Linked DNA regions of Homo sapiens. The protein of the gene in region 7 interacts with the protein of the main gene of each other region in a pairwise test. Each region holds a gene or a part of one and is shown on either strand. Other genes may lie near its edges. The genes, in order: RNF19A, CCDC69, VPS33B, ZNF746, MIDN, ZNF775 and MAP3K20.

The links.
Region 1: the proteins of MAP3K20 (region 7) and RNF19A interact in a two-hybrid assay, tested with the Homo sapiens proteins (one large-scale study listed by BioGRID and IntAct).
Region 2: the proteins of MAP3K20 (region 7) and CCDC69 interact in a two-hybrid assay, tested with the Homo sapiens proteins (one large-scale study listed by BioGRID and IntAct).
Region 3: the proteins of MAP3K20 (region 7) and VPS33B interact in a two-hybrid assay, tested with the Homo sapiens proteins (one large-scale study listed by BioGRID and IntAct).
Region 4: the proteins of MAP3K20 (region 7) and ZNF746 interact in a two-hybrid assay, tested with the Homo sapiens proteins (one large-scale study listed by BioGRID and IntAct).
Region 5: the proteins of MAP3K20 (region 7) and MIDN interact in a two-hybrid assay, tested with the Homo sapiens proteins (one large-scale study listed by BioGRID and IntAct).
Region 6: the proteins of MAP3K20 (region 7) and ZNF775 interact in a two-hybrid assay, tested with the Homo sapiens proteins (one large-scale study listed by BioGRID and IntAct).

Annotation. Positions count from the first base shown.
Region 1 is NC_000008.11:100,289,263-100,293,141, forward strand, and holds part of RNF19A (E3 ubiquitin-protein ligase RNF19A), read right to left. Parts: intron 1-3,879. UniProt on the Homo sapiens protein: E3 ubiquitin-protein ligase which accepts ubiquitin from E2 ubiquitin-conjugating enzymes UBE2L3 and UBE2L6 in the form of a thioester and then directly transfers the ubiquitin to targeted substrates, such as SNCAIP or CASR.
Region 2 is NC_000005.10:151,199,786-151,203,664, reverse strand, and holds part of CCDC69 (coiled-coil domain-containing protein 69), read left to right. Parts: intron 1-1,976; coding exon 1,977-2,083; intron 2,084-3,879. UniProt on the Homo sapiens protein: May act as a scaffold to regulate the recruitment and assembly of spindle midzone components. Required for the localization of AURKB and PLK1 to the spindle midzone.
Region 3 is NC_000015.10:91,009,049-91,012,927, forward strand, and holds part of VPS33B (vacuolar protein sorting-associated protein 33B), read right to left. Parts: exon of another isoform or gene 3,386-3,879; intron 2,122-3,385; exon of another isoform or gene 1,506-2,121; intron 799-1,505; coding exon 753-798; exon of another isoform or gene 743-752; coding exon of another isoform or gene 737-742; intron 1-736. UniProt on the Homo sapiens protein: May play a role in vesicle-mediated protein trafficking to lysosomal compartments and in membrane docking/fusion reactions of late endosomes/lysosomes.
Region 4 is NC_000007.14:149,491,099-149,494,977, forward strand, and holds part of ZNF746 (zinc finger protein 746), read right to left. Parts: intron 3,406-3,879; coding exon 3,106-3,405; intron 3,018-3,105; coding exon 2,891-3,017; intron 1,875-2,890; coding exon 1,761-1,874; intron 1-1,760.
Region 5 is NC_000019.10:1,247,135-1,251,471, reverse strand, and holds the start of MIDN (midnolin), read right to left. Parts: upstream 2,890-4,337; 5' UTR 2,812-2,889; intron 1,585-2,811; exon of another isoform or gene 1,583-1,584; 5' UTR 1,176-1,582; coding exon 943-1,175; intron 1-942. UniProt on the Homo sapiens protein: Facilitates the ubiquitin-independent proteasomal degradation of stimulus-induced transcription factors such as FOSB, EGR1, NR4A1, and IRF4 to the proteasome for degradation. Promotes also the degradation of other substrates such as CBX4.
Region 6 is NC_000007.14:150,382,033-150,385,911, reverse strand, and holds part of ZNF775 (zinc finger protein 775), read right to left. Parts: exon of another isoform or gene 3,089-3,879; intron 2,112-3,088; exon of another isoform or gene 1,921-2,111; intron 1-1,920. UniProt on the Homo sapiens protein: May be involved in transcriptional regulation.
Region 7 is NC_000002.12:173,260,632-173,264,510, reverse strand, and holds part of MAP3K20 (mitogen-activated protein kinase kinase kinase 20), read right to left. Parts: intron 3,449-3,879; coding exon 3,374-3,448; intron 767-3,373; coding exon 616-766; intron 1-615. UniProt on the Homo sapiens protein: Stress-activated component of a protein kinase signal transduction cascade that promotes programmed cell death in response to various stress, such as ribosomal stress, osmotic shock and ionizing radiation.

The DNA.
Region 1 (3,879 bases), on a different chromosome or scaffold from region 7:
ATAAAGCTTCTAGGAGACAAAAGAGACTATTTCTATGAAAAAATTCTTAAACAGAACATACAAGAATACCAACCATAAAATAAAAGACTGATAAACTGGACTAGAATAAAATCAACAGACAGTATTAAGGGTATGGGAGGAGACTTTTGCCACATATAACTAATAAAGGCACAGTGCCCAGACTATGTAAAGAATGCTTACAAATCAATAAGAAAACATAGACAATCCAATAGAAAAACGGGCAGGGGACTTAACAGGCATTTCACAAAAGGATATGAAAAGTGCTCAACATCATCAGTCATCAGGAAAAAACACATTAATGCCACATTCAGAGACAACACACCTAATAGGATGGCTAAAATTAAAAGACTGACATTTCCAAGTGTTAGCAAGGATGTGGAAGAATAGGAACTCTCTTACACTACTCGTGGGAGTGTAAAATGGCACAATTACTTTGGAAAACTGTTTAACAATATCAAATTGGAACACAGAGATGCCCTATTACCCAACAATTTCACTCCTAGAAAGGAATGCATAAGAAAAATGAATGTACACATACATTAAAAGACATACTTAACAATGCTCACAATAGCATTAGTAATAATATTCAAAATATTGGAAACAACCCATAATTTTATCAACTGTAGAATGAATACATAATTTGTGGTATATTCACACTCTAAAGCAATGAAGCAATGAAAAGGAATAAAATACTGCTACACACAAGACAGGACTCTCATACAAAAGAGTATGTGGTATAATTCTATTTATAAAAAGTTCCAAACAGAGAGAATTAATGTACAATGTTAGGAGTCAGGATTGTGGCTACATTTTGTGGTGAGGCACAAAGGGAACTTTTTTTGTTTTTTTGAGACACAGTCTGTGTCTGTTGCCCAGGCTGGAGTGCAGTGAAGCAATCTCGGCTCACTGCAGCCTCCATCTTTTGGGTTCAAGCAATTCTCCTGCCTCAGCTGGGATTACAGGCATGCGCCACCATGCTGGCTAATTTTTGTATTTTTAGTAGAGACAAGGTTTCACCATGTTGGTCAGGCTGGCCTCGAACTCCTGACCTCAAGTGATCCGCCCGCCTTGGCCTCCCAAAGTGCTGGGATTATAGACGTCAGCCACAGTGCCCAGCCAAACTTTCTTAATATGTGCAGTATGCATAGTGGTTACAAAGGTATGTTCACTTTGTGATACATACACGACCCAGAAACTCATGATTAATGTGCCTTTTTCTATGTGTTTTTTTCCTCCTATGGCTGACCTCCTAATTAACATGTGTTCTCTGGAAAAACATTTCACTCAAACAAACTTCACCTCATGTCCCTCGGTTTATATTTCCCTTCACAAACACAGGATAGATAAGGAACAGTCAGAGAGCTCAATCTATACAAATACAGTTATGCATCACTTAATGATCAGGATACATTCTGAGAAATGTGTCATTAGGTGATTTTGTCGTGTGATCACAGAGCACACTTACACAAACCTAGATGTTATAGTCTATTACACACCTAGGGTATACTGTATAGATTATTGCTCCTAGGCTACAAACCTGTACAGTATGTTACTGTAGTGAATACTGGAGGCATTTGCAACACAATGATATCTGTGTACCTAAACACAGATGTTTCATTTCTTTGGCTCTCCGATATCCTGCCAGTGCCTCACACTGGGTAAATCCAACCAGAAGCCAACTGCCTCTAAGGCAGTCCTTAGAGGTCAACCTCCTGGGGCACAGAGCAGGGTAGAGAAGGCTGAATGAGAGTAGATCTGGACATGCAAACAAAAAACATCCAGTATTGTATGTATAAAGAAGAGAACTTGGGAGTCAAAAGACCTGGCTCAGCTATTTTTTGTTATCATATCCTAGGTAAGATATATTCCTGAATCAGTGATCAGGACCACAAAATATGGATGATACCACTCACCTCAAATAGATGTTCTAAGAATAATATGAAATTGACATGTGTTAAACCTGCCTAACAAACCCGGCACCGTACTAAATGTTAGCTGAAATGGAATGTAAGATAACCTAGTGCTTTACAAAATGTGTACCTTATAGCAAGTGCTTAGTATTAAATGAATGAATGATGCTTTTCAGTTGCTATTACTCTGTGATCCTTAAGCCATACGGCCTTACTACATCCAGTTTTTTAACTGTGGAAAGACAAGAACCTTTTACCTTCAGAAGTGCTTCAGGATTCGTAAAACATGTTAAGTATCCTGACACTACAACTTCAAGAATTATACATTTATAATATCCCACCAATAAACATCTAACCATAAACACTTCAGCAGCATCTAATAGCCACCTATCTGCCTAAATGATTTACACATCATTAGAAAGGTATTCTGGAAATGAAGAAGGCAGGGCAAAAAGTTTGCATACACAGAAAACACTTACTTCCCAAGAGGAAAACCTACTACATGGTCAAATAACAGTTTTTGCTTCTGTTATTCAGCTAAAATTAGGTTTCTTCTGTCACTTCTCAAACAGCTTAAAATATGGAGAAAATCCAGTAATTTTGTGCTGATGGTCAAAATACTAAATGTAAGAGCAGTGTACCTATGTCTTCTAATTTTAATTTGTTTTTTAGATGTCTGACATCCAGATGTATGGTACTTCTAAAATAAGCATGCAATAAAAACAGCATGTGACAATATTTACTAGCACTGTTGAACAGAAAGAGGACTAAGTCTTTTTTTTTTTTTTTTTTTTTTCAAGTAAAGATGGAATAGGTACAGATAATTCCCAGCAGAGTTTCTACTGATCACTAACTTGGTCACTACAGAAGCTTAAAGCTATTCTATACTCAAGTGAAACTGTCAATAAAGAAGACAAATAAAAAATACTATGTTAAATGCTGTATTCTGTATTACAAAAGAATAACAAGCTATTAAACTTCAGCACATGCTTATGTTGAGAAGATAATAAAGAATAAAAAAAACAAATTTAACTTTAATGGCTATGTATTTGCATGTGAGATTGGGAATCCACGAGGAACATTTGCTTTGATAGCAAAGATATTTTTAGTATTGTCTCACTACAAGTCATTTACATTTCACTTTCTGTGCACTAGGCACATGTTTATATCCTGCTGCAGCACTTTTCCTTACTGATGTGTAAGACATAGTTCTATTTAATAAAGAGGCTTGCTATCATATGGGTGTGTGTGTGTGTGTGTGTGTGTGTGTGTGTGTACGTATAAATTGTATTTGACTATATGGCAATTTTCCAATGTAGAAATTTCAAAAGTTTTTAACGTGCTCAAATTCACATATCTTTCTGACTTTTGACTTCTACACCAGCCTTAGAAAGCCTTGCCCACTCTAAGATTATATTTTTAAAATCCCTTCACATGTTTTCTACTGGTAATTTGATAGTTTATGAATAAGTAGAGATCAAAATTTGTTTTCTAAATGGCTAGCCAGTTACCTCAACACCAGTTACTGAATAATGATCTTTCCTCCATGCCCCACCCCCTACATACATACTGATTTAATTTTTTAATTTCTTATTTTTGAGACATTTATTTATTTATTTATAAATTATTCCATTGCTCTATAAGCTTACCAAGTCTTCTTTTGGAGGATGAAACCTAATTGTTACATATTTACTTTCTGGTACTTTTCAATCTTTCTTGTGCAGCGGTGCCCAAACTTTTTGGTACCAGGACCAATTTCATAGAAGACAATTTTTCCACAGATGGAGGTGGGGGGTGGGAGCAAGGATGGTTTCATCAGGCATTATATTCTCATATGGAGTGTGCCATCTAGATCCCTCGAGTGCAGTTCGCAATACTCCTATGAGAAATCATTGTTGCCACTGATCTGACAGGAGGTGGAGCTCAGGCAATAATGCTCACGGCTGCT
Region 2 (3,879 bases), on a different chromosome or scaffold from region 7:
ATATACTAAATATGCAGAAGCTGCATATTTAGTACATATATATAACTAAATATATATATTTACTAATATATAAATATATATATTTACTATATATTAAATATGTATATTTACTAAATATATATATATTTATTTTTTATTTTTATTTTTATTTTTTTGAGACGGAGTTTCACTCTTGTTGCCAGGCTGGAGTGTAGTGGCAGGATCTTGACTCACTGCAACCTCCGCCTCCCAGGTTCAAGCAATTCTCCTGCTTCAGCCTCCCGAGTAGCTGGGATTACAGGCGCCTGCCACCATGCCCACCTAAATTTTTTTGTATTTTTGGTAGAGACGGGGCTTCACCATGGCCAGGCTGGTCTCGAACTCCTGACCTTAAGTGATCTGCTCACCTCGGCCTCCCAAAGTGCTGGGATTACAGGTGTGAGCCATCGCGCCTGGCCTACATTTCCTTTTGTGCACAAGCAAGCAGGATAAGGTGGTAGTTAGGAGTATTTGCTGTGGAAACAGATTGTGTAGGTTCATATCCCTGCTCCCTTAATTTTGAACTGGGTGACTTTGAACAAGTTGCATGACTCCTCTGAGCCTCAGCTTCCTCGTCTGTAGCATGGGGGTAATAATATTACTCACGACTATAGGGTAGCTGTGAGGAGCAGGTGAGTCATCCCTCTGAGGCACTTGGAACAGTGCTGGACATGTTGCAGGCATGGTAAGCTCTCAGTCCTCCTATCCTGCTTTTACTATTTTTATTGCCATTGTTTCCTGATTTAATCATCTCAGCCTCACTCATGTGGTAGGTGCCATAATTATCCTGATCCCATGTATTAGGTAACTGAGGCACAGAGAGGATGGCCACTGCCTTAGGTCATACCTAGTATCTGATAGACTCAGTGTGGCATTGGCAGGTCCTGTTTTGGAGTTTCCCGAAGCAGGGGCTAGACTTCCTGTTTGTGTTTCCTTCCTGCTCTCAAGTAGCACCCTCTACTACCAGCTGAGGAGACGCTAAAGGTGAGGGGCCACAAACTCAGATGCTCATGGGCCCCAGCAGGTAAAGCAAATGACATGTGGCCCTTTGTATACATTTTTAATAACAGCAGGAGGTGAAGACTATAGCCAACTGCAGAGCCCTATCCTGGCCGGCCAAAGAGGAGGCAGCTGCTTCTGGCTCCAGCCCCTGGTTGACATGAAGGCATACATTGCCAGTTCTTCTTTGGATTCTTCAAGAAAAATTGGAAATCAGAATTATTAAGTAAAAGCTTCCCAGTTATTAAGTATCAACAACTAATTTTTAAATTATTATTATTATTTTAGAGACAGGATCTCGCTCTGTTGCGCAGACTGGAGTGCAGTGATGCAGTCATAGCTTACTGCAGCCTTGAACTCCTGTGCTCAAACCATCCTCCTGCTTTGGTCTCCCTAGTAGCTGGGACTGCAGGTGCATGCCATCATGCCCAGCTTTTTTTTTTTTTTTTTTTTTTTTAGAGATAGGGTCTCACTATGTTTCCTAGTCTGGTCTCCAACTCCTGGTCTCAAGTGCTCCTCCCACCTCAGCCTCCCAAAGTGCTGGGACTACAGGTGTGAGCCACCATGTCTGGCCAGCGACTAATTTTTTAAAAAATGGGGTAGAACAGGGAGACCAGAGGACAAAATGAGACCATTGGCTTATTCCTTGAAAGAGGATCTCCAAGTCCAAAGAGACTCGAGGGGCTGTCTCTGGAGACTGGTCCCACTCGAAATCATTCTTGAGGCAGAGACCAGAAGACAAAATGAGACCATTGGCTTATTCCTTGAAAGAGGATCTCCAAGTCCAAAGAGACTCGAGGGGCTGTCTCTGGAGACTGGTCCCACCCGAAATCATTCTTGAGGCAGAGACCAGGGTTCTCATCCCTTAGCCCCATTTCCCACACTCTCTCTGCCAGCTCTGACTGTACTTCCACTCTGTGAGTTTTTTTATTTTTATTTTTTTGCTTTTTCATCTCTAGCTATAACTGTCCAGCTCTGTGCATCAGAGGAGGCTGAGCGGCACCAGAAGGATATAACCAGAATTCTCCAGCAACATGAGGAGGAAAAGAAGAAATGGGCACAACAGGTAAGTCCAGGTGCCCCCACCCCCTGTCTTTCTCCTGCTCAGCTAACTTTGGTGAATCCCAGAGTGAGTGCCTACCTTAGGTTTTTGTTGCTGTTGTAAGAGTCCCTTACTCATTTTACCAGGAAGGGAGTCCTTTATCTGTTGAACACATATTTTTATCAGGGCACTGTGTGCTGGGCACATTGGTTAAAACAAGCAGAGCTGGCAGCTGCTTTCACGAAGCTGAGAGTCTATTTGGGAAGAGTAAAAGCTGTTGATGCCACTAGATTAATTGCCTTTCTGGGCCCACCTCATGGTTGGGTGGGACCACGGAACTCGTTCTGGCTGATGCGTTATAGAAAGAAGAACCAGTGTCACTTCTAGGGCAAGCATTTAGTTGCCAGTTCAAGACCCTCAAGGTCTTTCTGTCTAGCTAAGTGACGGGACTGTTGTAATGGCCGCTCTATCAGCCTGATCTCTGGGTGATTATCCCTGGATAATCCTGGATAATCCCTGGCAGCAGAGCTCCCTGCCACACAAAATGGGTAGGTAGTGAGGGCAAAATAAACATTTTGTCTTAAGCCACTGAGACTTTGTCATTGTTTGTTATGGCAGCATAATTTAGCTTATATGACTGAGATGGGACATCAGATGCTAAACACAATTACACAGAAATACTTACTGCAAATATAAGTGCTATGAAAAGTTTACAGTGCCGTGAAAGGACATAATAGAACCCTTAACCAAGGCTGTGGGATCAGAGAAGGCTTCTCTAAAGGGATGACACGGAGGCTTTAAAATTACCCAGAAATGAAAATTGAGGGACATTCTACAGAATTTCCAGCCTATATTAGTCAAATGTCAAGGCCATGAAACATGAGGAAAGACTGGGGAACAATTCTAGATTGAAGGACACTAAAGTGATGGGATGACTGAATGTAACCTGCAGCCCAGGATTTCCTTTTCCTCATTCTAACTTGGTCACTCACCCTTCACCTCTCTTTGCCTCCATTTCTTCCTTTACCAGAGGGAATGGGTAGAGCAGCAGGAAAGATTTGGTGGTGTACACAAGTTTTCTCTAAATTTTCTTTAGTTTAAATTATAAATATGAAATATGTTCAGGGTAAATATTCAAAATTCTGAAATTTAAAGTCACTGCTTTAAGATAGATCTGGGCCAGGCATGCCTATAATCCTAGCACTTTGGGAGGCCGAGGCAGGCAGATCACCTGACGTCAGGAGTTCGAGAACAGCCTGGGCAACATGGCGAGACCACCGTCTCTACAAAAATACAAAAATTAGCCCAGCCTGGTGGCACATGCCTGTAATCCCAGCTACTTGGGAAGCTGAGGCAGGAGAATCACTTGAACCTGGGAGGCAGAGGTTGCAGTGAGCTGAGATCTCACCACTGCACTCTTGCCTGGGTGGCAGAGCAAGAATCCATCTCAAAAAAAAAAAAAGTCTCCGTAGTTATAAACTAATCACTCTATTAAATCACATGGTTATTTATTACTGAAAGATTTTCTGCTAGATTTTATTCACCCAGTCGACTTGCTGGGGGAGATTACTATGTGCGGGGAGGGTGCGGCCTCAGCACTGCCAGGGGTACAGGGAGAAATCGGGTCCAGACCCTGCCCTCAGGTGTTCGCTGGGTGGAAGGCTGTGGCAAGTGCCCCCACACACATTAAAATGGTTTTAGCTTAGACGCATTTTTCAGAAACACACCTTTTATGAAAGGTAAGTTAACTGTATGCAGCTGCTGGTCTTTAGTTTGTTTTGGTAGAGTTACCATGGTAATGTCATTTGGCCCTGACCATT
Region 3 (3,879 bases), on a different chromosome or scaffold from region 7:
CCGCTGCTATTTCCAGCAGGGAGGGCTGTGATCAGGTTTGGGTTGTGTGGAGAATAGCGGAGGAATACACAGAGGGGAGGCCCAGTTTTTCCTGTGGGAGCCTTGGAAGGTGAGAAAAGAGTGGCTGGTCATTTCCAACTCTAAGCCCTGGTGTTCCTTTCATACTACCCCAGGAGTGTTCTTTTCTTATCCTTTCTTTTCCCTCCCTCCCTCTCTCTCTTTCTCTCTTTTCTTTTATTTTCTTTCTCTCTCTCTTTCTTTCTTCCTTCCTTCCTTTCTCTGAGTCTCACTCTTGTTGCCCAGGCTGGAGTGCAATGGCGTGATCTCGGCTCACTGCAACCTCTGCCTCCCGGGTTCAAGCAATTCTTCTGCCTCAGCCTCCCGAGTAGCTGGGATTACAAGCGTGCGCCATCACGCCCAGCTAATTATTGTATTTTTAGTAGAGATGGGGTTTCACCATGTTGCCCAGGCTGGACTCAAACTCCTGACCTCAGGTGATCCACCCCCTCGGCCTCCCAAAGTGCTGGGATTACAGGCATGAGCCACTGCGCCCAGCCCCCAGTAGTGTTCTAATTCGTGGTCCTATTCCCATTCCCATTCTCAGGAACCTCTCCTCCTGCTACACTAACAGGAATAAGACCAGGAAAAGAAGGAGCTGGTGGTGGGGGTGGGGTGGGGGGGTTGGAGAACAACAACAGTTTTTTCTTCTGTATGTTCTCTTTCCCTTTCCACTCACATTCATCTCCTCTCACCTCCATAGATTCCCTCTTCCTCAAGCACCATCTCACACGCATAGAACTGAAAGAGAAAAGGAAATTGATTAGTAACTACCTTCTTCTCTGTTCTCTCCATTTCTCTGGAGTTCCTCTGTGGTCACTGATGAGGACAATAATTGCCGAACCCAGTGAAAGACAAGAGAACCCAGACTCTTAAGATCTAGAAAGAACCATTAGAATCATTCAGCCCAGCACTTCAGTTCTTTCTCATCCATTTAATTTATGTTTGAGTAAATTGCTTCTTATCTCCCTGAGAGAATGGAAGAGGTTTACAAAGGAGAAGGAGTTCAGCTGTCTTCAAAAGGTAAGTTGTACAGACAGAGATGAGAGCAATGGCATGAAGTGCTCTGGAAATTGTGGAGGAGCAGATGGGAGGAAAAGATCTGTACAAGGGAGAGTGAGTTCTGTTTAGGACATGCCCACGGGACCTTGGGAGACACAGACAAGGACTTGGGATTAAGTAGCATATATGCTGTATTTAAAGTGGATGATGTGGCTGGGTGCACTGGCTCACTCCTATAATCCCAGAACTTTGGAAGGCCGAGGCAGGTGAATCGCTTGAGCCCAGAAGTTCTAGACCAGTCTGGGCAACATAGTGACACCCCATCTCTACAAAACAATGCAAAAATTAGCTGGGCATGGTGGTGTGTGCCTGTAGTCCAGTTACTCAGGAGGCTGAGGTGGGAGGATCACTTGAGCCCAGGAGGTCAAGGCTGCACTGAGCTGAGATTGTGCCACTGCACTCCAGCCTGGGCAACAGAGTGAGGCCCTGTCTCAAATAAATAAATAAAGTAGATGGTCTGTCCAAGAGAAAAGAACACGCAGAGGAGAGCTAAGGACAGGACTCTAGGGAACACAAGATGAAAGGGGGCCAGAGTACAGGACCTGGCAGGGAAGACTGAGAAAGAATACTCAGAGAAGCAGGGGCAGGAGAAAACAGCAACAGTCAAGGCAGGAAAGGTGAGAGTTGCAAGGAAGGGTGGGCAACAGTGTCAAATGCCAGGGAAGTTAAGTAGGATTAACATTAAATAGACACCAGTGGATTTGACAACGGAGACCTGAGGGAGACTAGATGAAACGATGAAGGTGGAGATGAGGAAGCAGAAGCAGTGACAATAGAACATTCTTCACAGAAGCCTGGCCCTGAAAGAAGGGGGAGCTCTGAAAGGGAAAAGAGATGAAATGGGAGACATTGTTTAGAAGGCATAGACATGGGTGAAGGCAGAAGAGAAAGTCTACCTGGTAAAGCAAGATAATGGAGAAGGAAAGCAGAAATGGGGCCAAGAACTGGCATGGAACAGCTCATCTTAGGAGGGAAAAGGCCACGATCTCTTCCTCCTTTGAGGTAAGTGGGGAAAGGGTGAATATTTTAAAGTAATGAGAAAGAATGCTGAGGGCACTCACATCTGATAATGAGTTGACATTATTAACAGCTAATGTTGTAAGCCCTTAAAATGGTTTAGGCATTGTTCTTAGTGTTTTACAGGAATCACTTGTCTTCATCTTCATACTAGCTCTGTGAGATGTAGATCAATGCTACGTGCTCCTTATTTTACTGTTACACAGAAGAATCCTATTCCTCCCTCACTCATTTCTGCCAGGAAAACTGAAATCTTCAGGCCTGCTTTTAACTTTTAATGCTAAGTAATGGAATTCCAGAGCCAGGTCTGAAAACTGCCAATCTTCATAATTAACAAAGGAGTCTCAAAGAAGAGAGAGAGATGCCTCCTAATATAAAATTAGGTCAAAGAATTTGATTAGATAAGGTGTTAAGTGGAGAACACTCATAAAAATAACTATTTTGTTTTTCTGTGTAATAGAGAGGCTTGTAGGATTATTTTAACTTGTAGGATTATTCCCTGTTAATACAAATCTGTCCTTGGCCAGGCGCAGTGGCTCATGCCTGTAATCCTAGCACTCTGGGAGGCAGAGGTGGGCAGATTGCCTGAGCTCAGGAATTTGAGACCAGCTTGGGCAATATGGCAAAACCCCACCTCTTTTAAAAATATAAAAAATTAGCCACGCACGGTGGTGCACATCTGTAGTCCCAGCTACTCGGGAAGCTGAGGCAGGAGAATTGCTTGAACCTGGGAGGCGGAGGTTGCAGTGAGTCGAGATTGCGGCACTGCACTCCAGTCTGGGTGACAGAGCAATGCACTGTCTCCAAAAACAAAACAAAACAAAACAAAACAAAACAAGACAAGACAAAACACCAAAGCTGTCCTTGGAAGCATAATTTGAAAAGAAAAAAAAAAAAAAGGTTTGTAAGAGTCCAAGAACTAGAAATTATTGCCATGACTCCTTTAGTAACATTCAAAAGTACCTATAATTCTGAGTGGTTGTCCTACTCAATAATTTCTTGCCCTGGTAATAATACTTCACGTTTGTATTCCTAAGCATATTATCCTAAGATAAATATTTGTAAGATTGTGCTATCAATGTTCAGGTGACATTCAAAGGAAGGTCACTGGCTCTTTCCTCTTATTCCTTTTACAGAAGGAGAAAACAATATAAGCCTAGGGTCCCACTTGATTTCTTATTTCAACAGAGACTCAAAGTCATCTCACTTAAATTAAAAGATAAGTACTATTATCAACTCTATCTTCCAGATGAGAAAACCGAGACACGGAGCAGCTCAGTACCTAACCCAAGACCACACAGGTAATAAGGCCTCAAGGGTGGATTTTATCCAGACAGCCTGGTTTCAGAGGCTTCAGTCCTTAGTTACTGCCTCTATTTTCTCTAGAATTTTCTTAGAAAGATTGAAAAGGAATAAATCCCTGTTCTTCCTAGTCTAGCTTCTACCTTCTGTAAGTATGCATGCACTACTTGCTGTAGCTTTAGAGGCCTATGGTTGGCAAGGTAAAGGCCTGGAACGTCATTCCTCCCAATCACTGGGATTGAGGATGCACGTAGCTGATGTGGAGGTGAGAGGGGAGCTCAATGGAATCAAGAAATGGACAGACTATGATGGACCTCCAAATATGTACTGCAATTATTGAGTTAAAGATGGAAGAGCTCTACTCTGGCTGTGCTAACTCACTGTGTGAGCATGGGCTTCAGTTCCCTCAGCTGCTCAAAGTTGGGGTGGAGTAAAACAGTC
Region 4 (3,879 bases), on a different chromosome or scaffold from region 7:
GGATGGGTCAGGCCAAATGTGGCAAGGGATGAGCTGGGAGTCCTGGCTTCTCAGACAAAGGGGACAGGGATAAACGCCACACAGATCCCTGCCAACAGGCTCAGGATGGACAGTGGAGTTTGTGTCTACTCATCTTGTCTACTGGTGGGTAGAGGCCACGGATGCTGCTGAACATCATACGGTGCAGCTAGAGAGTGTTACAGGGTCTTACCAGCAACCAGCGTATTTCCAGCCCCTCTTTACTCTCATTGAATGATGCTGTGGAAGTGAGGGAAGCCTCCACACATGGTGTAAATACAACGAAACCCACCCACCCAGAACCTCCCACCCAGGCTAGGAAGCTGGGGACGCGCACGGGTTGTAACCCTCTTTTCCAGCCCAATAGTATCTGTTCTCAGCCATCTTTCTGTCCTCTAGTGTTCAGCACTGTCCTTGACGCCTAGAAGATTCTTAAAAATGCATCTGTAGAGCTAAACTGTCAATGTCCCGATGACGACTGGCAAAGCGGCCAGCCCGGAACATGCTTCTGCCCTTAGGAAAGTGCAAATCTGACTGAGATGAGATGACGAACATGGGGGATGCATTTAATTTCACACAAGTGGCGCACAGGAGGGCCTCTGCGGACCACCACCTTTCTCAGTGTCAGACGAAAGGGAAAACCAAGGCAGGTGGGACGGTCAAGGGCGGGTCTTCTGGAGGAATCAGGGGTCGAGCCTTGCAGAGATGTGGTCTCCCTAGTCAAATGACCCAGCAGGTCTTCACTTTAGGAATTTGGTTTTTCTCCTGTGTCCACCTGTCCTTCCCTTAACTTTCAAAGGTGCTGACTGGCTCCAGGGAAATCTGAGACGCTGATATCTGGTAACAAGATTCACCTTAAATAAATGTGTGCTTCTAATAATACCAAACCATAAGGCTGACCAATGTAGACCAAAGTAGCTCTACAACTGCTACTGGTTTAAATTAAGGTTGGTTCTTGGAGGCAAGGCTGACTCTTTGCAAAGCTTTGGATTAATTTTGTTGTCAATATACAGCTGACCTTGAACAACATGGGTTTGAACTATGCAGGCCCACTTATAAATGGATTTTCTTCTGCTTCTGTCACCCCTGAGACAGCTAGACCAACCACTCCTCTTTCTCCTCAGCCTACTCAATCTGAAGAAGACAATGAGGAGGATGACCTTTATGATGCTCCACTTCCACTTAATGAGTAATAAATATATTTTCTCTTCCTTATGATTTTCCTAGTAACATTTTCTTTTCCCTAGCTTATTGTAAGTATCACTATGTAACACACAGAACATACAAAATATGTGTTATTGACTGTTCATAGTATCAATAAGGCTTCTGGTTAATAGGAGACTACTAGCAGTTAACTTTTTAGAGAGTCAAAAGTTATACATAGATTTTTGGCTGCGTGGGACTGGGGGCTGGTGCCCCTGGCCCCTGCGTTAAGGGTCAACTATGCTCCTGCCTTCCCTCTCAGCGTTCTCCTCTCCCTCCCCTCAACCTGTGCCCTGCCTTTGTCTCTTCCTAAAAGATTAGGTTTGCCACCTGTTTCCCTGACAGAAAGTGTTCATTTCTGGAGCATTAGCTGACTAAGTTAGAGATTAAAACTCAACTATAAAAAACTCAAGACATAAAACCTGTAAGTTTCATGTTTCTCCTCGACTCTCTCTGGAAAGATCACACCCTTTCTGGCCTTTCCGTCTCTGTTTCCTGCACAATACCTGATGCCTCCCTGGCCTTCTCCCAGCCCTTACCTGGACTGGGGTCCACAGGAACATCTGGAATCTTGGGGCCAGGGCGGCGCCAGTTGCAGGGCTCCTTCCCTTGTTCAATCTGGGAGAGGACCTCGGGCTTGGAGATGGCGTAGTCTGAGGAAAGACAGAAGGTTAGTTTTTGCCACGTTCCAGTCAAAGCTGGGGACAGTCATCCCGGAAAACCAACAATGGTCTAGAAATGAAATCTCTTGATTGTCACAAAGCAGTAGCTCTCAACCACAGGCAATTTTGCTCCCTGGGGGCATCTGGCAAAGTCTGGAGACAATTCTGGTTGTCATGCCCAGGGCTGGGGGAGAGGTGACTGGCATCTGGAGATGCCCTGAGAGGCCAGGGCTGCTGCTCAACATCCTACAATGCAGAGGATGCCGCCGACACACAGAATCACCTGGTCCCAAATGTCCACAGTGCCGGGGTGAAGAAACTGCCACAGAGCGTGCACGTTAAACAGCAGTGCACTTGTGCTGACGAAACAACCTCACGTCTGCACCTGCTCCTGCCCTCTCTAACAGGTCTCACTGCCCTCGGCTCCGGGGTCACACAGAAACCATTAGGAAGAGAAAACCAGCCCAGGAAGAAACAGAGTCCAGGCCCTTCCTGGGCAGGATTAAACAAGGAGAAGAGCAGTAGCCCCAGGGGCTGAGGGAAGCAAAGTTTTGAGGCATGAAGAAAATGTCTGCTGCAAGCAGCACCGTCTGCCCATGTTCTCCACTGACCTCGAGGCATGTTGCCGTAAGGGCCACGCATGTTTGTAGGAGAAGGCTGAAGGAAAGAGTCTTTCTCAAATGTGAGTCAATTACATACTGGATCTGAGAGCAGATGGGGCCTTCCCCGCTCCAAGTCAGCAAGAACAGAAAGGTCCACATCCCGGGCCTGCGTAGGAGAGAAGCCACCGCCGTTCCCAGACTGGCATTCTGGGAAACTCAACACAGGGAGAAGGGAGCTTTTAACTCCATCACCCAGGGCTCATCCTTCACAAAAGGTAACAACTTGCAAGGTCAACAATGTTTCTGGTGATTTATATAACACTGACATGAAAACAACTATGTGGAGGGAGAATTCTGAGGACTTGCAAAATCCCATTTAACAGAGAAATGAGTGTCAGGCCTTACCCAGGGAGACCAGCGTCTCGTAGTTGCCCCTCATCACGTGCTTGTAGAGCTCCTTCTGCCAGTCCTCCAGCTTGCCCCACTCCTGCTCGGAGAAATACACGGCCACATCATCAAAGGTCACGGGCACCTGGAACCACAAGTGTCACACTCGCTCACCCACACGCTCACGGGTTTGGCCGCTTGGGCTCCCACACCCCAAGGCGTCCCAGGGCTACCTTAGGGGACTCCCCCTTGCTGCCCGGGGGCAGCCGCAGGATCCAGAAGTTCCTGTTGCGCAGCAGGTTCTCCACGTTCTCCAGCCGCCTCTGCAGCAGCCCGTACTCCTGCAGCAGGGTCCCCAGCACGGCCCACTTGCCCTCCAGCTGGTTCCCGAACTCCACGGCTGTCTTCTCGCAATCAGCCAGCTTCTTCTCGGCCATCCCGGTTCGACCTTCTAGGGAAAGCAGGCGAGCAGCCTGCGATTCAATCTTCCTCTCCATGGCCTGAATCGTGGCTGCCATCGTCCACGGAGAAATCTTTCAGAAACAAAAGAGAAACTGGCATCACTCATTCCATCCACTGTCTTCATTGAGCCCCTCTCTCCCTAGGCACGGGGGAGTTGGGCTGGGAGTCCATATGTGTGGACAAGTGGGGCTATCCTATACCACATGCCAGATCTCAGGTTGGCCATCACCTGCTTGGGTATGTTAGGTCTATGTCTGGGTGGGTGCCTTTACTCCAGGCCTCTGCAGCACAATGCAGACCCTTATCACGGTGCTTATCACCCTACACAATAATTTCCTACCCACACCTACACTGTGGGCTCCCTGAACATGGTATTGCATCTTTTCATACCACTGTCCTTGACACATGGCAGGTACCCAGTGCAATTTTGTTACGTAAACAGTGACTTAGCATTGCTGGGCATTTTAGTGGAGAAATGGTAAACTGCAGATTTACTAGAGCGCAGCCTGCACCTCCCCTCATGATTACACAGGAACTGTCTACTG
Region 5 (4,337 bases), on a different chromosome or scaffold from region 7:
GGAGAGACGGATAAGTTCCCACCCCCACCCCTTCCCGGCTTCCAGATCCAGGGCCCTAAGCGCGTGCAGAGAGGTCTCCGTCTGGTGCTGGGAGCCCCATCCTGGCGATTCGGACCCCTTCCCTCCAGTGGAACCCCCGCCCTGGACTCTGGCACCCCCTCTGCACCCCAACCAGGCACTTTCTCCTCCTCTGGGCCCCAGTGTGCTCTATGCCACCTTCCCCCACGACCCCAGGGCAGCCCCTGCCCCCAATTCCCTAATTCTAGTCCTGGCTCCTCTTTGTAGGAACCACGGGTTTCGGCCCGAGGAGAGGCCCTGGGGGTTGCGCCGGGCCGGGCTCCCCCTCCTCCTCCCTCCCCGGCGCAGGCGGCCGCCGCCGCGCAGACAAAGGAGACCCTCCCCCTCCGCCCCTCCCCCGATGGGCCCCTCCACTGGGATGGACACTGCGTGTCCCCGGAGGCCCGCGGGGGGAGGGCTCCGGGCCTGCAGGCGATTTAAATACCAGGGGGGAGGGGAGGCTGCGGGGAGCGCTCGGAGGCGAGAACAAAGGGGGGGAGAGAGACGCAAGTGGGGGGAGACAGCCAGACGCAGAGGAGGCCGCCGAGCAGATGCGGAAGCCGGCGCGGACGCAGGCGGGAGGGGGCGGTGGCGGCCCCCACACCCGCAGCCGGGACCCCCGCAACGCCCTGGGATTCCTGCCCGCCCCCAAGGGGGGCCGCCGAAGCCCGGCCCGGGACGCCCTCGCAGCCGCCTTTGTGCGGCGACCCCGGGCGGGGGAGGGGGCCGAGGCAGGCGAGGCCGAGCAGAGGGCGCCCGAGAGCGCGCGGCGCGCCCCCGCCCCCTGTCTGGCCGCCCCCTGCCTTCCCCGCGCGGCGCGCTCTTTGTTCCCGCCCGGGGGCCGGGGCCCGAGGGGGCGGCCGGCCGGGGGCGCGCGGTACCTACGTGTCTTTGTGGAGAAGAGCCAGGCGCTCCTTGGGCACTTTGAGGCGCTGGGACAACCGCTTGCGCAGCCCCTCCACCGTCTCGTCGGGCGGCACGGCCAGGTCGTAGCGGGTGCCCGTGGTGCTGTGGATGGCGAGGCTCATGGGCGCCGCCTCGGCCGCCGGGCCCAGCTCGCAGGCGCCGCCGGGGGCCCCGCGCCGGCAGCTCCGGGCGCCGCCGGGCTGCGGCTCCATCCCCGGCGCGCGCTGGGGGGCTGGGGGCGGCGGGCGCCGCCAATCCTCGCCGCGCCTCCGGGACAGGGGCGAGAGGCTCCCCGGATGCCGGGTCCTCCGGGCACTCGGGGGCGCGGAGCAGCGCGCGTCCTCCTCGAGAAAGTCCCGGCCGCGGAATGCGAGACCGAAATCCAAAATCCGAGTGGCGCTCCGAGGTCGCTCCGGCTCCTGGGGGCGCCTTCCGGGGGTGGGGACGGCACTTGCTTCTCCTTCAAAGGGCGGCGGGCGCGACCGGGACGCGGCGCGGTTAAGGGTCCTGGGGAGGGGGCGCCGCTCGGCTGGTGGCGCTGGGTGCCGTCTGCCGCCCGGGTCGCGCTTCCTCGCGCGTCCCCTCCCTTAGCAACAGCCGTCGCCGCCGCTCGGAGGATCTGGGGGTGAAAGTAACAAGAAAAAAAAGTTATAATGTATCAACGTTCCAGGGGGCGGGGCCGCCGCCCCCTCCCATTCACTACTTACTCCGCCGGCCGGGCGCCGGCCAATCGCCGCGCGCCGAGCGCCCAGTCGGCCGCGAGCCCGGGCCTATGAGAGCCGCCGCGGCACCGCCCCACGTGGCAGCCGGGCCCGCCCCCTCGCCCCGCCCCCAGCGCCCAGGCGACCAAGGGGAGCGCAGCGGGGGCGGGGCTGGCGCCTCTCCGCGCCCGCCCCCGCCCCGCCCGCGCCCGCAGCCATTCATAAGCGCCCGGAGCCCGCAACAAAGGGCGGGCGCGCCCCGGGGGGCGCGGGACCCAGGTCTGGAGACGGGTCTGGTACCCCTCGCGATCCCAAGGGAGCGGCCGGGAGCGGGAGGGGGCGCGGGCCATTGTTCCCGGCGCCGGGAGGGGCAGGAAGTCGTGGGGCCACCCCGCCGCCTTCGTCCGGGAAAAGCCGCGAGCGGAAGCGGGAGCGCGAAGTCCGCGCCTCGTGGCCGGGGTCCCGGGGCGGGCGGGCGACGGTGAGGCTAGGGCCGCGGCCCCGGGGAGGGCGTGGTGCGTGGGGGCGGAGTTGTGGCCGGGGCGGGGCGCCCGCACCTCGGTGACGTGGCCGGGTGGCTGCCGCCGGGGGCCCCGCGCGCCCACCCGCCGGCCGCGGGCAGAACCCGTTTCCCCGAGGCGCGCCCGCTCGAGCCGTGACGTGACGCGGCGTCCCCGGCTGCGCCCGCGCGCGCTCGGGGATGCGGTGAGTCAGCAGCTCGGGCGCGCCCTCTGCCGGGCCCGCCTGGGAGCGCCGCCCGGAGTCCCGGGGAGGGGGCGCCGCGCTGCCCCTGGCAGGGGAGGAAGACGACTGGGCTGCGCGCGGGGGAGGAACCCCGATCGGGAACGAAAGACTGTAGTCGGGAGACTGGGACCGTGTGGCTGGGCAACGGAGGGCGGAACGGCAACCAGTTCAAGGTCACCCGCGGTGAAGGGGGAGTGCCCCGGGGGGCGGGGCGGGGGCTGAGGTCCGGCCAGGGCGGCGCTGGCTGCGCGGAGCCCCTCCCACCCCGCACCCCGGGGGGCTTCCCAGGACCGGAGGCTCCCCGATCCCTCCTGTCCCAAGAACAAAGAAAAGTGCGGGCATCCTGAGCCATCTAGAGTGGGCACCCTTCCTCGGCCCGCAGGTCCCCCCCCTCCACACTCACCGGGCGCGGCCGGTTCTGCGCTCCAAGTGCTGCGAGTACCTTCGTCCGGGGCCGAATGCGCGCTGGCCGGGCCGGTCTGGGCCAAGCGCGCGGCCCTCAGCCTTTATCCGCGCCGCCTTCCCTCGGGGTGGAGTTAGGGCGGGCAGGGGGGCGGGGGGCCGGGCGGGCGGTGACGCAGACTGGCCCCCGCCCCTGCCTGCCGGCCCTGGCCCTGGGGCGCCTTGACGGCTGGGCCACCCGGGACCCAGGCTTGGCGCAGTTCATGGGGGGACTCCCCTTGAATGCCCCGAGCCAAGGGTCTCGGCCCGCCTCGCCGCGGGCTGAGATGCACCCCGAATCGTCAGCGGGACAGGGTTTTGGGGTGTACAGCGCGACTCGCTGCCCCGCCCCCTTCCTGTCGCCCCAGGCCCGGTGCTTCCGCCTGGGGGCGCCCGCGTGGGGGGGACGGGAAGAGGGGCCTGAGTCAGCGGCTGTCGTCCAGGAAAACAGGCTGGAGTCACCTGCCGTAGAGTGGGGGTGCCCTGGCCAGCCCTGGCCTCCTGCATCTGTCAATGGTGACCTCAGAGGGCATTTATGGAGCGATTAGCCAGTGCCAGGCCTGCCTTGTGCCCAGCCAGTCACCAGCCGGCTATGCTGTGACCCCGGGAGGTAACTGGCCTCTCCAAGCCTCAGTTTCTCCAGGGTGGGTGGGAGTGTGGTGAGGGGATGCGGCAGGATCACTTTGGGGCCATCACCCCCCATTAATGCAGGACATGCACTGGTTCCCAGCCTTTGGGGTGGGCATTACCCCATTTTACAGATGAAGAAACTGAGGCCACAGCCAATGAGACACGAATGTGGTGTGCATCTCACCCTTCCCCGTCGGCTTTTTGAGGATGGTCCTGGTTGAGGTGGGCCCCGTCCTGCCCCTCTATTTAGAGAAGGGGACCCCATTCCTACGGGAGCACCTCCTGTCCACTCATCTGGCCCCTCCCTTTATCTGGCCTGACCACCTCCACCCCCACCCTGGCCATGGGCGCCCCTCCCAGGGCTGCGCTCCTCCCCAGGTCTCCTTCCGGCTGCCACCCATGCTCCCGGCAGCCGTGGCCCCCACCTTGACAGGCACACCCAGCCCCGAAGGGTCAGGGCTAGGCCAGAGAGGGAGAGGCTGGGATAACCCTTGGAAGGGGGTCACAGGGGCTGCGGTTTGAGGAATGACTAGGAGTTTGTCACATAAAAAAGATGATGCGGTCGGGCGCGGTGGCTCACGCCTGTAATCCCAGCACTTTGGGAGGCCGAGGCGGGCGGATCACAAGGTCAAGAGATTGAGACCAGCCTGGCCAACATGGTGAAACCCTGTCTCTACTAAAAATACAAAAATTAGCTGGGCATGGTGGCATGTGTCTGTAGTCCCAGCTACTCAGGAGGCTGAGGCAGGAGAATCGCTTGAACGCGGGAGGCGGAGGTTACAATAAACCCAGATCGTGCCAGGGCACTCCAGCCTGAGCGACAAAACGAGATTCCGTCTCAAAAAAAAAAAAAAAAAA
Region 6 (3,879 bases), on a different chromosome or scaffold from region 7:
GGGGCCATTTCTTTGAAATTTAAGTATCAAGGAAGACATCACCCCTGCCTCCCAGTCTCCATGGGAGGGTAGGAGCCTAATTTCAGCAGGTGCCTGGCTCCAAATCACAAAACTATCTCCTGTCATAAAAATATAAGAACTTTATTTTTCCTGTGGGTAAAGGCAATTAGCTAACACAGATGGTCACTCCAATTATGAGGTGAATTTAGGACGACCTGCCTGCGTGTGACAAATGGTAATGTCCAGTCCTCTTGCTGGAGGGCTGGTTGCTGTTTATCCTGAGAACATGTCTGTAACGGGCTGCACCTGCCGGCTACATGCAGGCTGAGAGCTTCCGTCTTTGCAGTTACTCAGGGATTGCAGGCTCAGAGCTCCCGTCTTTGCAGTCATTCGGGGTATTGCAGGCTCAGAGCTCCCGTCTTTGCAGTCACTCGGGGTATTGCAGGCTCAGAGCTCCCGTCTTTGCAGTCGCTTGGGGTATTGCAGGCTCAGAGCTCCCGTCTTTGCAGTTGCTCGGGGGATTGTCCATGGTGCGCACCACATTCTGGTTTCATGCACATTCAATCTTTTAAAAGCTGTTTTTCTCTTCTACTTTTGCAAAGAGCTTTTCTGGGTTGGCAAGAGATTTTGTTTTCAATTCTATTTCCCCAACAGGGGCCTGTACGCATGCCTACCATGGTTTCTTACAGAACCTGCTTGTGGTGCAGAGAAAAGGCGAGCAGTGGGGAAGGGGGCGGGAGGAGCCCCTGGTGGGGCTCTGATGGGTGCTGGGGGCTCCTCCCTCCCTCGCCACCCTCCTCCCTTGGGGCCACTCTGTGAGCTTCTGCATGCCACATCTTGGGAAACCTCTCACCAACTGGACTTAACATCCACCTGAAGAGGCGCAGAGGGGCTAGTGGACAGAGAAGCCACCTTGGTAAGGGGAACTCAGACCGAGGAGGGCAGAGCCCAGGCCACAAATTCAGGAGGACAGAAGGATGGGCCTGGGTCTCCACAGAGCGAGACCCCCAAGGCAAATCAAAGACAGTCCTACTTCACCCACCCTGCCTCCCAAGAGGTATTAGGACCTAACAGCCACTCCAGGTAGTAGCAGGCCTTCCACTGTCCGGGACCTCCCAGAGCAGCTCCTCCCTCAAGCCTCGGTGCCTCTGTCTCGGGCCATACCAGGGCTCGAGGGGAAGCAGCCTGTGGCTTACGTAAGAACAGAAATGGAGACAGAAGGAAGAGGACCCAAGAGGAAGAAGTGAGAAATTCAAAGGGGGAAACACAGAGGACAGGAATGAGGGGAGGCCAAGTCTTTGGGGACCCGCCTCTACCTGTGTGCTCAGGTGGGCTATGTCTGGGAAATGGCACAGCAGGTGTCCTACAGACAAAATCCAGGAAAGCCCTCCATGTGTCATGTTCCAGGCTGGCCAGACACACACGTCCCCACCCTAAGCTTCTCTCCTATTCTGCCTTTCACTCTGCTCTGTGCATGGCGGGCCCCTCCTAACCTACCATCCTGACATGTCCTCAGCCACCTGGAGACACCCAGGAGCCAGGTGAGCAGGCTGCCCAGCAAAGCGCCCCGGCTGGAAGACAGGCATCAAGGGCCAGATGCGCCATCTCCCACCAGTGCCCACACCAAGTCTTGGAAGGCCGCTTTGTCTATCGCACAAGGGCCCCCGGGCCCCTACCGGACCACCTTTCCTCTCTGCTGCCCCTCGGGCTCTGAGGGGAGCAGGACACACAGGGGCCCCCTTCCCACGCCTGGCCCTGGCCCGGCCCTCCGCGCACCGGGTCAGGCTGCAGTTCAGTTAAGAGCCTCACAGTGGGCAGGCCTCAGCCTGGGCCCAGCTGCCATGACAACTGAAGACCAACCACACAAAGAGGGGATTGAGCTAGCAGCAGGTGGAGAGGCCCGGGGCAGGGGGAGGCAACAAAGGAGCTTTGGTTGTGGCAGAGACTTGGGGGTGGGGCGGCCAGACAGCAGCTGGGGGAGGAGAAAGGCCACAGGCCAGAAAGAGGCAAGGTCCTCCCCATCGCCGCCCCTGGAACCTCCCACCAGCCCAGCACAGCTCTCACAGCCTCAGCGCCCCAGGTCGGGCAGTCAGAAGCAGACCATGCCACAGGTATCATCTGCTGCTAGTGGAGCGGGAGCAGGATCCGCCACTAGGCGCTAAGGCTTTTGGGGGTGGGGGCAGCTCCCCAAACCCCAGCCAAAGGCCCAGTATCAGGCCCTTCTCAGCCCTGAGGTCCCAGCAGGTCCTCACTTGCTGGGCACAGCTCAGCTGGTCTTCCATAGGAGACCCCCACAGAAACTGGCCTCTCCAGTCCCAGCCCATGCCCAGCCAATGCCTCCCTGCCATGCTGCCCCTTTCTATAGCCTCATCCTTCTCAACTCCACCGGGTCCCCAGCGCCTCCCTGCCCTCCTGCAGCCCATACCTGACTGCTATGTCCTCACCCAGTCCTCTCTCCCTGTGAGACCCCTCACTCAGGTTAGCCCCAGGGAGCGGGGGCTTGCTCCCACACCTGCGCGTCCCTCATATGCAGAAGGTGTGTAATGTGTATTGAATGAATGAACGGATGAGTGAATGAAACAATGGAGGACCCAAGAGGTGGCTCCTCAGGCTCCAGTCTTCTGTCACTATTAAGAAATCCCTCAGGACCAGGCAATGGTATTCTCTGCCTCTGATTTCAGTTAATAGCAGATGTTTTTAATTTAAATATATGATCATAGGGACATAAGAAACTGATGTAAATGCTAAACCACACACAAACACACCCAGATACAATCATATCTAAATACAGCTAAGTAAACAAAAGTTCAAAGACACAAAACTACGTGAGAACACCTGCAAAACTGTCTATGCAAATACAGAGAATGTGAGATATTTTTTAAAACTCACAGACACACCTACAGATCCACAGACACACAAACGTGCCACTGTGAACCAGGGCAGCACGAATCACTGCACAGCACACTTAGGAACACAGAACTGCAAAGCCACCCATGACACAAGTATCCTTGTACACCCATGGCCATCCCATCAGGGTCACTTGCTCCGAGGAAAAGAACTCAGAGAGGTAGAAACAGAAGCAACATACCCTCATCGAGCCAGGAGGCCGGGGCCATAAGTCACCGTTGGATGACCTGCGCTGGGGTGGGATAAGTCAGCAGGAGCTGCAGCTGGCTGGAGAGACGTTACAGCAAGACAGAAAGCCCTAGAGACAATGAGCCTGTGTCCGGCAAGCCTGGTGCAGCCTAAGATCCTCAGGGCCTGGCCTGTGGGCTCTGGCCCAAGGGGATGCAGCGGGCCCTCTCCCCTTCAGCCATCTTTGGGTGACCCTCAGCCGCCACCTGGCTGGCTCCTCAGCCCTAGTCTCCCCCTAGAAGCCCACTGCCTGAGGCTGGCAGGGATGTCCTTCTCAAGGCCACCCTTCCTGGTCCCTCCCCTCAGGACCCCATGTCTTAATCAAGAACCCCAAGTCCCAGCCCACCCACCACTGAGCCGCTGCTAGTCCCTGGCCAGTCATTGCAGCGCTTTGAGCTCAGGTTCTTGAAGGCGCAGGTGAACGGAAATACCTGCTCCCTGAGTTTGGGAGGAGCACCACAGGGCGGCAAGCCTGAGCCGGATGCATCGGGCAGTATCTGTACAAGCCTCTCTGCCAGCGTCCCCGCTGCCACTCACTCCTCCTAAGCCATCACTCCTTCCAGCCAGTTGGGAATCTCAGAGGCCCCCAGCGCCACACAGGAGCCTCCACGCTCCACCATGCAGGAGGAAGAGGGTTTGCCACGGCTCTGGTTGTGGCACTGTCTGCAGAGCCCTCCACTTACCAGGGTGGTTCTGCATGCCCCTCCCAGAGGTCCCAGCCCAAACCAGGTGGGCATCCCCTCC
Region 7 (3,879 bases):
TAGAAAAGTTTTCCTTACTCCTATATATAAGAACAGGTAGGGACCTAACCCGTTATTTCCTCTGGGCGTTGTGATATCTTTGTGTGATGACTGTAAACAGGAGAGGAGCCGAGGGCAAAGGCAGCCTATTGAGCATGGCAGGGCAGAAAGAAGGGAAGGTTCATTCCACTCTCTGAATATGGTTGAGCCAGCTTATCTTACTGCACCTGGAGCCTGCCCTACCTCTGGGCTTCTTGTTATGGAAGATAATAAATTTTATTACAGTTTAAATCAGTGGCTTAAGGACTTTAGAGTTGTTCTTAATCACTGGGAAGGCTCCTTAAAATGCAGACTGCAGCTCCTATCCCCAGAGTTCTGATTCAGTAAGTCTGGGTTTGGGCCTGAGCATCTGGATTTCTAGCAAGTTCACAGGTGATCCCGATGCTCCTGGTCCTGGGGCCACACTTGGGGAATTATTGGAGTAAGCCAGTTGCAACTGGGTTTTCTGCTACTCGAAGCTCAAAGATAGATCTTAACTGATTGAGGTGGTATCCTCTGAGTCTTTAGATCATCTGGAAATGTCATAATTAAGTTTCTGGAATCTAGCACACATCTAATACGGGAACACTAACTTACTTGAGTCGGACCTGCTTCCAGGGTTGCCATCTGAATTGGTGAATAATGTCTGAATGGCAAGTTGGACTGCTTTCACTTCATCCTGAGGTTTTGTTCTACTCCACTGAATCGAATGGACATGTTTAGTGCTTTTTGGAGTTCTAACATCACTCTGGTAAAACAAACAAACGAAAAAGACAAAAAAAAGACAAATAGAAACATATGACCAAATAGACACACATATATAAAATGGGAAAGAAAGTCATCCAGGTTATTATATCACTTCAGTTTCACCTCTTAGAACACTATCATAATGCACTAGGAAAATATTCTGAACAGTTGGCCCAAATATGCTAATTCAATGAAAAGAAAAATTTTAACCACTTTATTTCTTAGTGGGTTATAGCACTTATTCCTTAATGGATTATAACATAAATTTCTTAGTAAACTATAGTAGCTAAAAAATATGGTTGTCTTTTCCCAGAATTTATTATATTTGACAAATCTCAACTTACCTCTTTGTTTAATAAGAAATAAAAAATTACATCTTCTATTTATAGTACTTGATGACAGCTATTTTGTTGAATAAATGAAAATCTGACCACCATGTTTGCCTAAGACTGAATTTGGATCATCAAGGAAACTGAGTGAAGGTGGTGGGGTGAATTACCTGCACGGAGGGGAAAGGGTCTCAGATGCAAAAGTGAGACAGGATCAAGAAGTAAGAAATGGGGACCAGGAAAAGGAGAGGACACTAGGTCAAGACACATTACTTTCTTGTTCTGAAATCTCCCTCCTCACTAGCTGTCACCAATCAGTGTCAATTAAAGAGTCTCCAGGATTCAATATGGTTAGGGAAATCTGTTTTAAAAAACTCTGAAGTGAAAAACCCAGACAAAAGTGGCATATCATCATGGGGTCTGAAAAAGGAGGAGGAGGGAGAGAGAAGAAGAAAAAGAGAACTGGGTGTGCTGTCTCCAAAACTGTCTAAGGCAGGCAGAGGTAGAATCTGGTTGTTCTAATTGTCCGATTACTAACAAGAGGGCTTTTCCTGGGTAGTGAGGACCAGTTAACAGGCTGTAGAGTAGTCTAGTTTCCAAGTTCCTCAAGACCAACCAGCCTCTTTTGTTTGGGTTTTGCACCTTGCAAGCAATGCTTTGACAAGTAATATAACTTCTCAGATGCCTCATCCCTGACAACCTGTGCACCCCAGCAGGTGAGGATAAATAACTGCTGTAAAACTTTTTGGCTTCCAGCCTGGATAAGTGGACTGGCCAGAGTTTGTATTGCTTTGCTTTTCTTTTTTTTTTTCTTTTTTGAGACAGTTTTGCTCTTGTCTCCTGGGCTGGAGTGCAATGGCGCAATCTCAGCTCACCACAACTTCTGCATCCAGGGTTCAAGCGATTCTCCTGCCTCAGCCTCCTGAGTAGCTGGGATTACAGGCATGCACCACCATGCCCAGCTAATTTTTGTATTATTAGTAGAGATGACGTTTTACCATGTTGGCCAGGCTAGTCTCGAACTCCTGACCTCAGGTGATCCACCCGCCTTGGCCTCCCAAAGTGCTGGGGTTACAGGCTTGAGCCACCGTGCCTGGCCCAGGGTTTGTATTTCTAATATTGAAAAGCCAAATCCTGGCAGCCCAGGAAACCATCAAAATGCCACACTCACAGAGTCCTCTTTGAGGTGGACTTCATCTTACTGCAGCCACTGGGAGCTAACAGGGTAGCCAGGGAAGCGCAGAAAGTGTTTTTTATAGTCAGAAAACATGGAATTGACTTCAACAATTCTGTCAGTGAGGACCTCACACCTCAAGACTTCCTTTCATCTCTCTGAGCCTATTCTTCCTATCTGCAAAATGAGGATAATAATATCTTTCAGTATTTTTTTTTTTTTCTGGAGACAGGGGTCTCACTGTCTCACCCAGGCTGGAGTGCAGTGGTGTGATCTCGGCTCACTGCAGCCTCAACCTCCTGGGCTCAAGCAATCCCCCGACTTCAACCTCCCGAGTAGCTGGGACCATAGTCATGTGCCACCACACCTGGCTACTTTTTGTATTTTTTGTAGAGATAGGGTTTCATAATGCTGCCCAGGCTGGTCTCAAACTCTTGGGCTCAAGTGATCTGCCCACCTCAGCCTCCCAAAGTACTGAGATTACAGGTGTGAGCCACTGCGCCTGGACGATATTTTTCAGTATTGATTTACATGAAGTTAGTGTGATCAAACTGGTGTAAGCACCTCTAATAGTGCCTGGTTCATGGTAGATCCTTAATAAATGTTTCTTGAATGAATGAATTGATGAATGAATGAAATGCATGTCCCTTTGATGGTGGGTGCACACTAATATTTCCAGGTGTGCCAAGACTGTACTATAACTGTTGCCTTCCACCCACTCCCACCGGGTCTACGTACCTTGTAAGGTGTATGTCCTACCAGCCATGAAGATCTTGTTGATTTAAAAAAAATTAGTATTAACTATTAGTATCCCCAATACCAAACATCTTACATGGTATACAGAAGGTGTTCAATCCATAACTAATGAATGACTGAAGTACTACCTCAGTCGCTATCTGGGTAAGTTTATCCTGTTCTCTTTTCTTCCCAACACGTTGTGAGAGAAATTATATTGATCTTCCTATGTTCATGTTGGTTGGTTTACTCCCAATAAATTATATGCTCTGGGTATATCTCCCAATAAATTATATGCTCTGAGATAACAGATAAATTTATATTCATTAACTGATGGTGAGGCCACCAGCCTCTTGCCCCCAGAGCTTACCTCATATGTGACAGTGCACTCCACAGTCTGACTTTTTGCTATTCCTACAATCCACTTCTCCATTACAAATGGTGGCTGAAAAACAAAAGTTAGGATGGTGTAGTACCATAACACAGTCTGCTCTACTATAGTATGTTTCTTTGAGGCCGGTTGTGCCATACACAATTAGCAAATAGGGGCATAATATCAGATTATCATGAAAGCCTTGTTGGTTCTCATGTGATCACTCACAACATGCTAATGTTTGAAGTTTTGCTTTTCATAAGACATCCTTTTGTATATTTGTAAACAGCTAGTCATGGCCTCCCACAATCTTCTTTTCCGATATAACATTTGCTATCACTCAATCCTATCATTAGGTCATTAATTCTTGCTAAAGTTTGAAGCATCAGTTGGAAAACTTCCCAACAATTAAGAGAAATCCATAGCAATATGAGAAGACCCAGAAGTGCTTTCCTTGAGTAAAGCCGTGGCTGGTTTAGTGGCTTCAACAATCGCTCTGCTTT